Regions from separate parts of the Homo sapiens genome. Here region 2 is linked to region 1. Evidence: fine-mapped expression QTL. A gene starts in region 1. The other region holds a variant in brackets. All regions are shown on one strand. Distances are from middle to middle.

The links. PIP is the estimated chance that this variant, and not a neighbour inherited with it, causes the effect. A credible set is the group of variants that fine-mapping cannot tell apart.
Region 2: its variant is the best candidate, but not a certain one, in a credible set for the expression of REN in testis (GTEx, PIP 0.57).

What each region holds. Positions count from the first base shown.
Region 1 is chr1:204,163,082-204,168,454 of GRCh38, reverse strand. REN (renin) reads left to right here and starts at 2,118. Exons shown (of 10, transcript NM_000537.4): 1 at 2,118-2,259. The coding sequence starts at 2,162. RefSeq lists cis regulatory regions at 1,859-1,874, 1,744-2,051, 2,036-2,058, promoters at 1,535-1,969, 1,970-2,121, 1-2,133 and a silencer at 2,262-5,373.
Region 2 is chr1:204,187,597-204,192,969 of GRCh38, reverse strand. KISS1 (KiSS-1 metastasis suppressor) reads left to right here. Exons shown (of 3, transcript NM_002256.4): 2 at 56-196; 3 at 2,173-2,629. The coding sequence starts at 94. The coding sequence ends at 2,486. Among named protein-coding and RNA genes, the nearest start is that of KISS1, 6.2 kb to the left of the region's middle. RefSeq lists an enhancer at 3,409-3,488. The variant G/A (reference allele first, on the strand shown) is at 2,739.

The DNA of each region.
Region 1 (5,373 bases):
AAAAGGCTTTCTTGACTCTGGAAAACAAAACATAAAGAATTAGCAACATTTCAAACTTAATTTAGGATTAGATTTTGAGGACATTTGTCAAAATGTTAAAGCCTCAAACCATTTGATCAAAACAGAACCGCCGGTCTTTGTAAAATAATAATTATTCATTTCACAAAAGTGATAATTAAAAGACTTTAATAGCAATACAGAAAGTTACATGAATATAAAGACTTAACCTTTCTAAAGCTCAGTTTTCCTAAGTAATCAAAAACCTGATAAAGATAACAAGAATGAGGAATTATCTTGAGAAAATGTAAAATCTTTCCTTTTATTTTTTGAGACAGGGTCTCACTCTGTCATCCAGGCTAAAGTGCAGTGGCACAATCATAGCTCACTACAGCCTTGAACTCCTGGACTCAAGTGATCCTCCCGCCTCAGCCTCCCCAGTAGCTAAGACTACAGGCACGCACCACCACACCCAGCTAATTTTTTTCAGAGATGGGGTCTTGCTATATTGCCCTGGCTGGTCTTGAACGAGCTTCAAGTGAGCGTGAGCCTCCTACCTCATCCTCCCAAAGCACTAGGATTACAGGCATGAGCCACTGTTTCCCAGCCTAAAATAATTGTTTCTTAGGCCAGCTACCAAAAACGCAAAGAAAAACTTTCTGTAGTGTGATTGCTTCTTCTTATGGGAAGCCCATTTAGATAACCTGTAAGTCAAACCTGATGAAAACAATACTTGAATGTAATCAGACACAGAAAGACTGTTCAAGGCTATGAGTAGCTGAGTCCAAGCTCGTATCACTTGCCACACAACAGCCAATAAGTCTAGAGACAAGGTATTGTGGCAAGGAAAGCTACCTTATTCAGAGAACCAGAAAACCAAGAAGATGGTGGACCAGCATCATAAAGAACCATCTGAAGTCAGCATGAACGTTAGGCTCTTCTTTATGTTAAGGGAAGGGGAAGAAGAAGGGGATTGGGATCAAGAGGTGACTGATGACCACAGACACCTGGGTGCCAGCAAGGGTCTGAGGACGTTGTAAAACTTCTTTTTTCTAGGTCAGGTCACAATGTTCCTATACATCTTTAACATAACATTGTTATTTGTCTGTATATTTCCTTATCTCCTTGGGGGTTAGTTTGGGGAAAGGAACTGTTACCATTTTTTTTAAAGTTGAACTGCAAGCTAAACTCCTATAATTAGCTGGTCTATGTACAGAGCTAAGCAGAAGCTTTTAGCCTAAAGGATAATACCCCTGGGGGTCAGAGGCAAAATGGAGTCAGTCATGCTAAGTCTCCCTCCACTCTCTTTCTTTTTTGAGATGGAATTTCACTCTTATTGCCCAGGCCGGAGTGCAGTGGCATGATCTCAGCTCACTGCAACCTCCGCCTCCTGGGTTCAAGCAATTCTCTTGCCTCAGCCTCCTGAGTAGCTGAGATTACAGGTGTCCATCACCACACCCAGCTAATTTTTGTAGTTTAGTGGAGATGGGGTTTCACCATTGTTGGTCAGGCTGGTCTGGAACTCCTGACCTCAGGTGATCTACCCACCTTGGCCTCCCAAAGTGCTGGGACAGGTGTGAGCCACCATGCCTGGCCCCTCTACTCTTATAATTAAACCAGCTGTTGCTTTTCCTGCCAAGAAACCAGTCATGAAGATTCACCCATGTTCTAGATGGGAAAACTGGGCTGTAGCCTGGGAGAGGCCAGTCAGGGACAAAGCCAAAGTTAATATAGAGAATGGAGCTTCCAGGGTATAGGGGTTGGGTCTGGGCTAGGGAGCTGGAAACCTAGGTTTTACGCTTGTCCCAGTTTTGATGTTAGCCCTGAGCAGTGCTGTTTCTCATCAGCCTCTGCCTGCTCCAGGGGTCACAGGGCCAAGCCAGATAGAGGGCTGCTAGCGTCACTGGACACAAGATTGCTTTCCCACAGCTGTCCTTCCTCCAGCCCCTCTGCTCCCCATCCGGAAACCTGGGTACCCTTCACCCACCTAGCTCTGTCCCGCAGTGAGATTTATTGCTGACTGCCCTGCCATCTACCCCAGGGTAATAAATCAGGGCAGAGCAGAATTGCAATCACCCCATGCATGGAGTGTATAAAAGGGGAAGGGCTAAGGGAGCCACAGAACCTCAGTGGATCTCAGAGAGAGCCCCAGACTGAGGGAAGCATGGATGGATGGAGAAGGATGCCTCGCTGGGGACTGCTGCTGCTGCTCTGGGGCTCCTGTACCTTTGGTCTCCCGACAGACACCACCACCTTTAAACGGTAATTGGTAACTCAGGCAGAGAAGGGGTGGGAGGGGTGCAGGGTTCCCACCTTCCCAACACCCTGGCTTTTCCACATGCGGTGTCATTCAGTCCTTACGATCAGCTGGACAGGGAAGTATGGACCTGTTCAGAGAGGTCAAGTGACTTGCCCAATAAATGACACTAGTAGTCAGGTCTAGAAGCTGTGACTTTTGCTTCCTGCCCAGAGCACCATGCTAACTAAGCACTGTAGAGAACTCAGAAGTATTAGGACATGCCCCTTGCACTTGAGGAGCTCACAGCCTGAATATTAAGAAGGGCATGGGTGGTTGGGCGCGGTGGCTCCTGCCTGTAATCCCAGCACTTTGGGAGGCTGAGACGGATCACTTGAGGTCAGGAGTTTGAGACCAGCCTGGCCAACATGGGGAAACCCCATCTCTACTAAAAATACAAAAATTAGCCGGGCATGGTGGCAGGCACTTGTAATCCCCAGCTACTCGGGAAGCTGAGGCAGGAGAATCGTTTGAGCCCGGAAGGTGGAGATTGCTGAGCCAAGATCGTGCCACTGCACTCCAGCCTGAGTGACAGAACAAGACTCCATCTCAAAAAAAAAAAAGACGGGGGTCGGGGCATGGGTACAGTTAACTGTACCAGGGAAGCAGCTTGATATCGTGGTTAAATGCAAGGCTTATAGAGTTAGATTGCCTTCATTTAAATTTTGCTTCACTAGCAGAACAAACTAGGTCTGGAATCATGGGCAAGTTATTTAACCTCTCCAAGTCTCAGTTTATCATTTTAAACAGGTATGATAATAACAGTACCTACTTGATGGGGCTGCTTTGGGGATTTTAGGAGATAAGGCATAGAAAGCTGGGCACGTTGTAAGAGCCCAGCTACTGTTAGTACTACAGGATAGATTCTTACAAATATCAAAAGCAAGGTTTGGCCGGGAGCAGTGGCTCACGCCTATAATCCCAACACTTTGGGAGGCCGAGGGGGGCAGATCACCCGAGGTCAGGAGTTCAAGACCAGCCTGACCAACATGGAGAAACCCTGTCTCTACTAAAAATACAAAATTAGCCGGGCGTGGTGGCACATGCCTGTAATTCCAGCTACTTGGGAGGCTGAGGCAGGAGAATCGCTTGAACCTGGGAGGCTGAGGTTGCAGTGAGCCGACATAGCGCCATTGCACTCCAGCCTGGTCAACAAGAGCAAAACTCAGTCTAAAAAAAAAAAAGAAAGAAAAAAACAAGGCTTTAGGTAGCCCACAATTAGAAGGAGAAAACCTTAGCATCCCCTAGGTGCCAGGCCTTGTGGGAACAAGTGATTCATTAAGACTGTAGAAGGAAGCTGGGCACGCGGCTCATGCTTGTAATTCCAGCACTTTGAGAGGCTGAGGTGGGCAGATCGCTTGAGCTCACGAGTTCAAGACCAGCCTAGGCAACATGGTGAAACCTTGTCTGTACAAATACAAAAATTAGCTAGGTGTGGTGGTGCAAATCTGTAGTCCCAGCTACTCGGGAGGCTGAGGTGGGAGCATCACTTCAGCCTGGGAGGTGGAGGCTGCAGTGAGCAGAGACTGACCCACTGTGCTCTAGCCTGGGTGATAGAGCCAGACCTTATGTAAAAAAAAAAAAAAAAAAAAAAAAGACTGAAGAAGGGGAAGAGACAGCATTTGAGAAAAGGCCTCACAGAGAAAGGGGTTTTCAATCTGGGGACAGCAGATATGACCAGCAGTCCTGAAGGTAGGGAGGCACACTTTAATAATGGTAATAGTTGCTAAGCCTATAAAATGCTTAGGGTGTCACAGGATCTTTTCACATGTCTCATCTCAAGTCATGCCCCCAACAACTCAGCATTCCCACTTTGCAGATGAGGACACTGAGGCTCAGGGAGGTGATATGTAAGAGGCTAAGCCTCAACACACACTGGGCCTTTTGCTTCCGAAACTGCTTTCCCTTGCTCTGAGGCTCTCGGAGAGTAATTGCTGGGTTGTGAGCACTGGGTAAGAGGATGGGTGCTTCAAAGCAGCTGCACTCCAGGATAAAGGTAGAGGAAAGTAAAAACATCTTCCCCTGCTGTTATCCAAAAGAGAAAAAGAATGGAATTGGGCAAGGGGTGGAGGGGGAATCCAGCTTTTGAAACAGTATTATAGGAATTTTGCTACCCGCTATGTGCAGAGCATCATGCGAGGCACTTGGGACAGCTGAATGAATGAGCTCCATTCTCAAGGTGAACATGTACATATACACACCTACAATTTACATTTATTGAGCAGTGGTCGCATGGTTTCATCTGCACAGTGACTCTGAGGTAGGTACTACCATTAGGCCCATTGTTAGAGAGGGGTTAATGGAGACTTAGAAGAGGCCCAGAGAGGTTAGGTAGCTTTCTCAGAATCACATAAGTGGTAAGGGGATTCAGGCATGCCCCCTGCAACCACTGTCTTCACCACCGTACGGCACCAGTTCCACAAGCTGTACAGTGTGGGCTGTGAGACCCAAGGAAAAACAGAGCTGAGGCCCACGGGAAGGTGAGGCCGGTGTGGGCTGGAGGCCTTGGGGTAAGCTTCCTGGAGGTGGGGGTACATGTTGGGCCTTGGAGGACTAAAGAACTGGGGGGAAAAGGAAGGGAAGAAGGAAAGGATTTTCTGAAAAGGAAATGGCAAGAAGTAAAGGTCCAAAGCATAGGCTGTTGTGAGTAAACAGTGGGAAATGCAACCTCTTTGGGGCCAAACCTCTGACCCTCCACGTTCCCAGCTGTGAAGTGGGAGTAATAAAATCATCCACCTTATGAGAGCAAATAAAATAATGATTGTGAAAATATTTTGGTAACAGTAACCTGTGATAGGAAGATAACAAATCATTTCTGTTACAATACCATGCTGATAGGCATAAAAGTTGCATTCATGTTCATGGGCAAAATGGGGGTAAGTAGAATGCATGGGACGCAAGAAGGATGTAGGAAGGAAAGGGTAGTGTGAGTATAGGAGGACTAGCCACTGAGAAGAAAGTAGAAGAAAGAGGGAATCTTTGTGTGTATGGGAAAGTCTATTGCAGAGTCAACTTGGGCTTCCATCCTGGGACCTTCCCGTGAACAGCTAGAGACATCTTCCTCTGGGCTTTGGCAGCCT
Region 2 (5,373 bases), 25 kb before region 1:
CACCCAGCCCAGATCCTGTGCCTGACCTAGTCTTTGTTCCCTCTCTCTGTCTCAGCCTCAAGGCACTTCTAGGACCTGCCTCTTCTCACCAAGATGAACTCACTGGTTTCTTGGCAGCTACTGCTTTTCCTCTGTGCCACCCACTTTGGGGAGCCATTAGAAAAGGTGGCCTCTGTGGGGAATTCTAGACCCACAGGTATGTATCCTCTGGGGAAAGGAGTGGGAGGGAGCAAGTGGGTTGTTGCAAAATGAGCTTTCCCGTATTTTCCATCTAGTCGACTGGTGTGAGTTTAACATTGCATTTGGTGGAAATCTAAGACTGGCACACATGCAACTCATTGAGGGGGTCCTGTTAACCCTGCAAGTGACGGATGCCTTGCCTCTGTGATGGCCTCAGTCCGCCCACCTAGGTTCCAGGGCTTATTAACCCTTGAGCTCTTTCATGGTTTCCTCACACTGTGTTCTCTGCTCTACGTCAGCAACCTCTCTGTGCCGATGTTGAGAAGAAACTTCATATGCAACCTTGCTTTATCGGTGACCTCAGATTCTTTGTGGAGAATTTGGAAAAAAAAAAAAACCTAAACCAAAGGGCAGATATTTGATACCTATTAACCTTTTGGAGACAATGAACTGTCTCCAGTTCATTGGGGAACTGATAAGCTGGAAAATTTGAGACCCACAGAGGTAAAGAGATTTCCCCAGAGTCGCTCAAACACTGTGGAAACCCAGCAGGTGTCAGAGCTCCCCAGGAGTGTGTCTGGTGAGTGGCACAAGCTAGAACAATACTAGTCCCCAAGTCAGGAGCTGTGGCTTGGCACACTTCCTGGTGTCAGCTTTCTGGGCAAACTAGAACCCATGACTTAGCTTCTCTGGACCTGAGTTCCCCCAGCTATAAAACTTGGGGCATGCCCTCTACACATTTGATGTCATCGTATATGCCCATAAGACCTTCCAGAGCACAGAGGACACGGCCCCGGGTGTCGTTTGCCAAGCGTGTCTTCTGTCCTGGGATCAGGCGTTTTTCTGGGTGAGGGAGGCTACCCCAGAAAATAACCCCACACTGCCCAGGGATATAGGGTTGTTGGCTCTTTTTGGCAAAAGGCTTTAGGTGAGGTCACCAACAGCAGCCTGAACAGTGATTTACTACTGGTCTAGCGTGCGCAACTGGGGAGGAAGCCATCCTCCTCCTACCTCAGCCAGGCCCTGGGCAAGGGCTGAGGGACCTCGCAGGCGACTGCCATTAACTCTGGACCAGGTCCACACTCCTCTTTTCCAGACTGTGCCAGGGCACGGAGGAGCAGGGCTCAAAGCCAACTGCCGCCCCAGCACATCTATTCACACCCATTCACACACCAGGCCTCATTTCCACTAATCTCTTGCCGCAATGGGCTGGGGTTATTGTCTACACAGAGCTAGTTGCCCTATTTTACAGCCAAAAAGTACAGTGAACTTAATGAGCCTTGCATGTGAAGTGCCTTCCAAATTAGCCTTGTTAATCCTCAGAATGAAGGAGAGAAGTTATACCCAGGATGGAGGAAGAGAGCCAGTTAAGGTGACCTAGATAATTTTTGTTTCTCATTGAGTCCTTATGTAGCTTATTGGGCGGGGTTGGGGGGGTGGGTGGTCACAATTCTTATCAAAGACGAGTGTTGGAACACAGGTGTGTGGGGCCACAATGTCTTAGCTCCACTTTCTCGATTTCTGTTACTACACGTTTTTAGCTTTTATGTATTTAACAGGCATTTATTGAGGCCCCACTATGAGCAAGCCACTGTTTCAAGCACTATGAGAGATACAGAGATGAATTAACATGGCCCCACTGCCCAGGCTGCTCACAGCCAGGAAGGGGCCCAGAGCTGGGTGTTCAGCAAATACTTTGGTTTTCTTTATTTCCATGCCCTACCCTGTTTGTTTCCTAAAAGGAAGTAACGTAATATGAGAGTTATTTAAGATAATTCTGGCAAACATTCTAAATCAAAGCTATGTTGGAAGAGGGAGGCGCCTAGGGCCTAATCATCCCAGCTAAGGTGATCGTGCTGGTTCGCATGGCACTGAGCTCCGAGCTTCCAAAAGGTCAAGGAAGGAAAAGAAGGATAGGATGGGATGACAGGAGGTGTTGCAAAGCCATCTTTCCCGGACCCCGGCCTCATCTTTCTGTGCCCTCTGTCCTAGGCCAGCAGCTAGAATCCCTGGGCCTCCTGGCCCCCGGGGAGCAGAGCCTGCCGTGCACCGAGAGGAAGCCAGCTGCTACTGCCAGGCTGAGCCGTCGGGGGACCTCGCTGTCCCCGCCCCCCGAGAGCTCCGGGAGCCCCCAGCAGCCGGGCCTGTCCGCCCCCCACAGCCGCCAGATCCCCGCACCCCAGGGCGCGGTGCTGGTGCAGCGGGAGAAGGACCTGCCGAACTACAACTGGAACTCCTTCGGCCTGCGCTTCGGCAAGCGGGAGGCGGCACCAGGGAACCACGGCAGAAGCGCTGGGCGGGGCTGAGGGCGCAGGTGCGGGGCAGTGAACTTCAGACCCCAAAGGAGTCAGAGCATGCGGGGCGGGGGCGGGGGGCGGGGACGTAGGGCTAAGGGAGGGGGCGCTGGAGCTTCCAACCCGAGGCAATAAAAGAAATGTTGCGTAACTCACTGACGTGTGGTCTGCGGCTCATTTTTGCAAGCAGCTCTGATGAGGCTGTTCCCCTTCCATCCTCAATGGATGGTTAGCTGATTTCAAGAGGCCTCTGGTGTCATTAAG[G/A]TCAGTGCTTCTCACACTAGGTGTAATGAAGGAACAGGCGGTTAGTTCTCCAATCCATTGCAGATTGGTACTTAAAAAAAAAAATTAAAATGGATCACTGAAAATCTGAAAAATTTAAAAACAACAAAAGAGAAGACCAAACTGTATGCTGCTGGAATGTTTCAGCGATATCAAATTTCTATAAAAATTTCTGGAGATGTCCTCAGAATGCCCAGACTTATCTCCCTGAGGATGGGTGACATTTTGCAGAGGGTCATGGCTCACTGCCCACACTTTGAGTAGTACTGGGGGATAAGGGAGGCATGGGGGAGATGGACTGATTAAGTACCTTTCCCTTTCCCACGGAAGTTGGGCAGCTTGATCTGGAAGATGATGCCAATCACTGCCCTGTCCATTGAGGCTTAAATATCATCTGAGCCCCACAGTCAGACCCCTGCTGGGGTCTGGGATGCAAAGGGCATCAACAGTGGACCAGCCACTCACTCTTCCCCCTTCCCTCCAGGGAGCCAGGTTGGGTCTTTACACATATTGCTTTCCTTCATCCTCATAACTACCCAGGGTGATGGGAATGCATTAGCCCCATCTTTACAGGTAGAACCCTAAAGTCAAGAAGGATAAACCACTCGCTCCAGACACATCGGCAATGAGCTCCAAGCCTAATAGGTCTCCTGATACCAGAGCCTGTCTTCCCCACTGACCTGTCATGCCTCTCTGCCATGGCAGGGTTTCCATCTGAGTCAGCCAGGTGCAGATCAAGAAAGCGTAGCCTGCCTCATGGGGACTTACTTTGGGGTGCAATAGCTGGGGAGTAGAAATTGTGGTAGGAAGAAGTAGAGCTCGTCAGTGGGAAAACCCCAGGAAATCCACCCTCCTGCCGACAAGAAAACACAGCACTACTTAGCCTCGGGGTACCCCTATACTGCACAGTCTAGGATGAAAATGTTCTTTCCCAGAGGGATCGTAGGACCCGTCTCCATACAGTGAAGTGACACAGTGTTCCACCCACTACGGAAACCAGGACTCCACAGGATGGAGGCAGAGCTGTGTTGCTATGGCAATGAGATAGGCTGTCATGGGAACATGACAACATGCTCCCCCATCTCTACCCTTGAAACAGCTCTCCAGGATCTCCCAAATTATCGATACTGCTGTGAGCTCACATCATCACGCATCATGACAGCATGATGTTGATATTTAGAAGGGCTTTTTATTCCTAAACACTCTGGGGTGTGTCTCTGTACCTCTAGGAGGGCAATCATCAACTCAAGACCTATTCTATTAAGCATGCTGTTCTCCTAGCCCCTGGAAGCAATCCTTTATCTGATGATGGGCAGGAAGAAGCTGATGGTTTCCTGAATTCTGCTCTGAATTTTTACAAAACTTCCTGTGACCCCATTTACTCTTCCTCACAAGCTTAAGCTTGGGCAGATGGGAGGAGTGTGTGTGCCGCTTCAAGTGCGGGAGAGTGAAATGTGTTCTCTGGTGTGAGAAGCTGGGGTGTGTGTGAGAGGGCATGTATGAGGGGGGTCAATATAAGAAACTGCATGAAGTTCATATGCACATGCCTGTGTGACCTTGTGTATAGTGTGGGTTCCTCTAACCATCTTCCAGTCCTTGTCAGCACTGCTGCAACCCGAGGGTCCCCCAAGATCTCTCGTCTAGCTGACCAGAGGCCCTGCTTCAGCAGACAGCTAGAAGGGGGTTGAATGCCCATCCCATGCTTCTAGCAGCCTGAACTGCTACCTTTGAGACTCTGGGCTTTGCAGTTCTTGGCCTCGTGTCTTGGGAAAATATGGGGAGTCTCTGTGGAACAAAAGGGATTTCTGATTTCATGTGGCTCCCAGCCTGTGAGCCTGCTATCCAGATGGAAGGGAAGGAGAGGAGGAGATTGGAGGCTGTGAAGAGCCCCAGGGATTCCCTTCCCTCCCTCCAGCCTTTCTGGGTGGGCTCAGAGAGTGGGGCACCAGAGCCCAAACACTTGGAGGTAGGGCTGCCTGCAGGCACTCGAACCTACTTCTTCCTGGGGTCTCTGGACAGTGCCCAAAGGGGAGAAATCAGCAGGGCCTGGCATCCCTTGTGATTGGAAGTGGGAGGATCTCTTCCCAGGCTCCATCCCGTTTGGTAAGTCATTTACAATAGATGTGGGCTAGGAATTAGGGGGCAGGGGTGAGAGGGATGCAGGGAGATTTCTGCCTCTAGTATCGTTCTTATCACATTCATGAGCCATTTTTGAGTACCTGCAGCATGCCAAGCACAGGCCTACCTCATTTTATCCTGACAACTGCATGAGGTGGGAGTACAATCCTCATTGTATAGAAGAAAAAACTGAGGCTTGAAGAGGTTTAAGTAGTGTGCTCAAGCAGTTGTAAAGTCGTAGAGCCAAGAGTCAGACTCCCACATTCTAATTGCAAACACCATAAGCTTCCTACATACTGTAGCCTTTCCTTCTTCTGTAGCCCCTATGCCACTTAAGAAAGCACTGCCAGGTAGCAAACCCAACCCTTTTCCTGAATGATTTGTCTTGGGAAGCAGTCTGGCAGGCAATGTCACTCTATCCAACCCATCTGCAGTGCCTCTCCACAACACTAGTGACAATACAGACAAGTCACCAATCCCCAGGGCAGGTCTCCTCTTC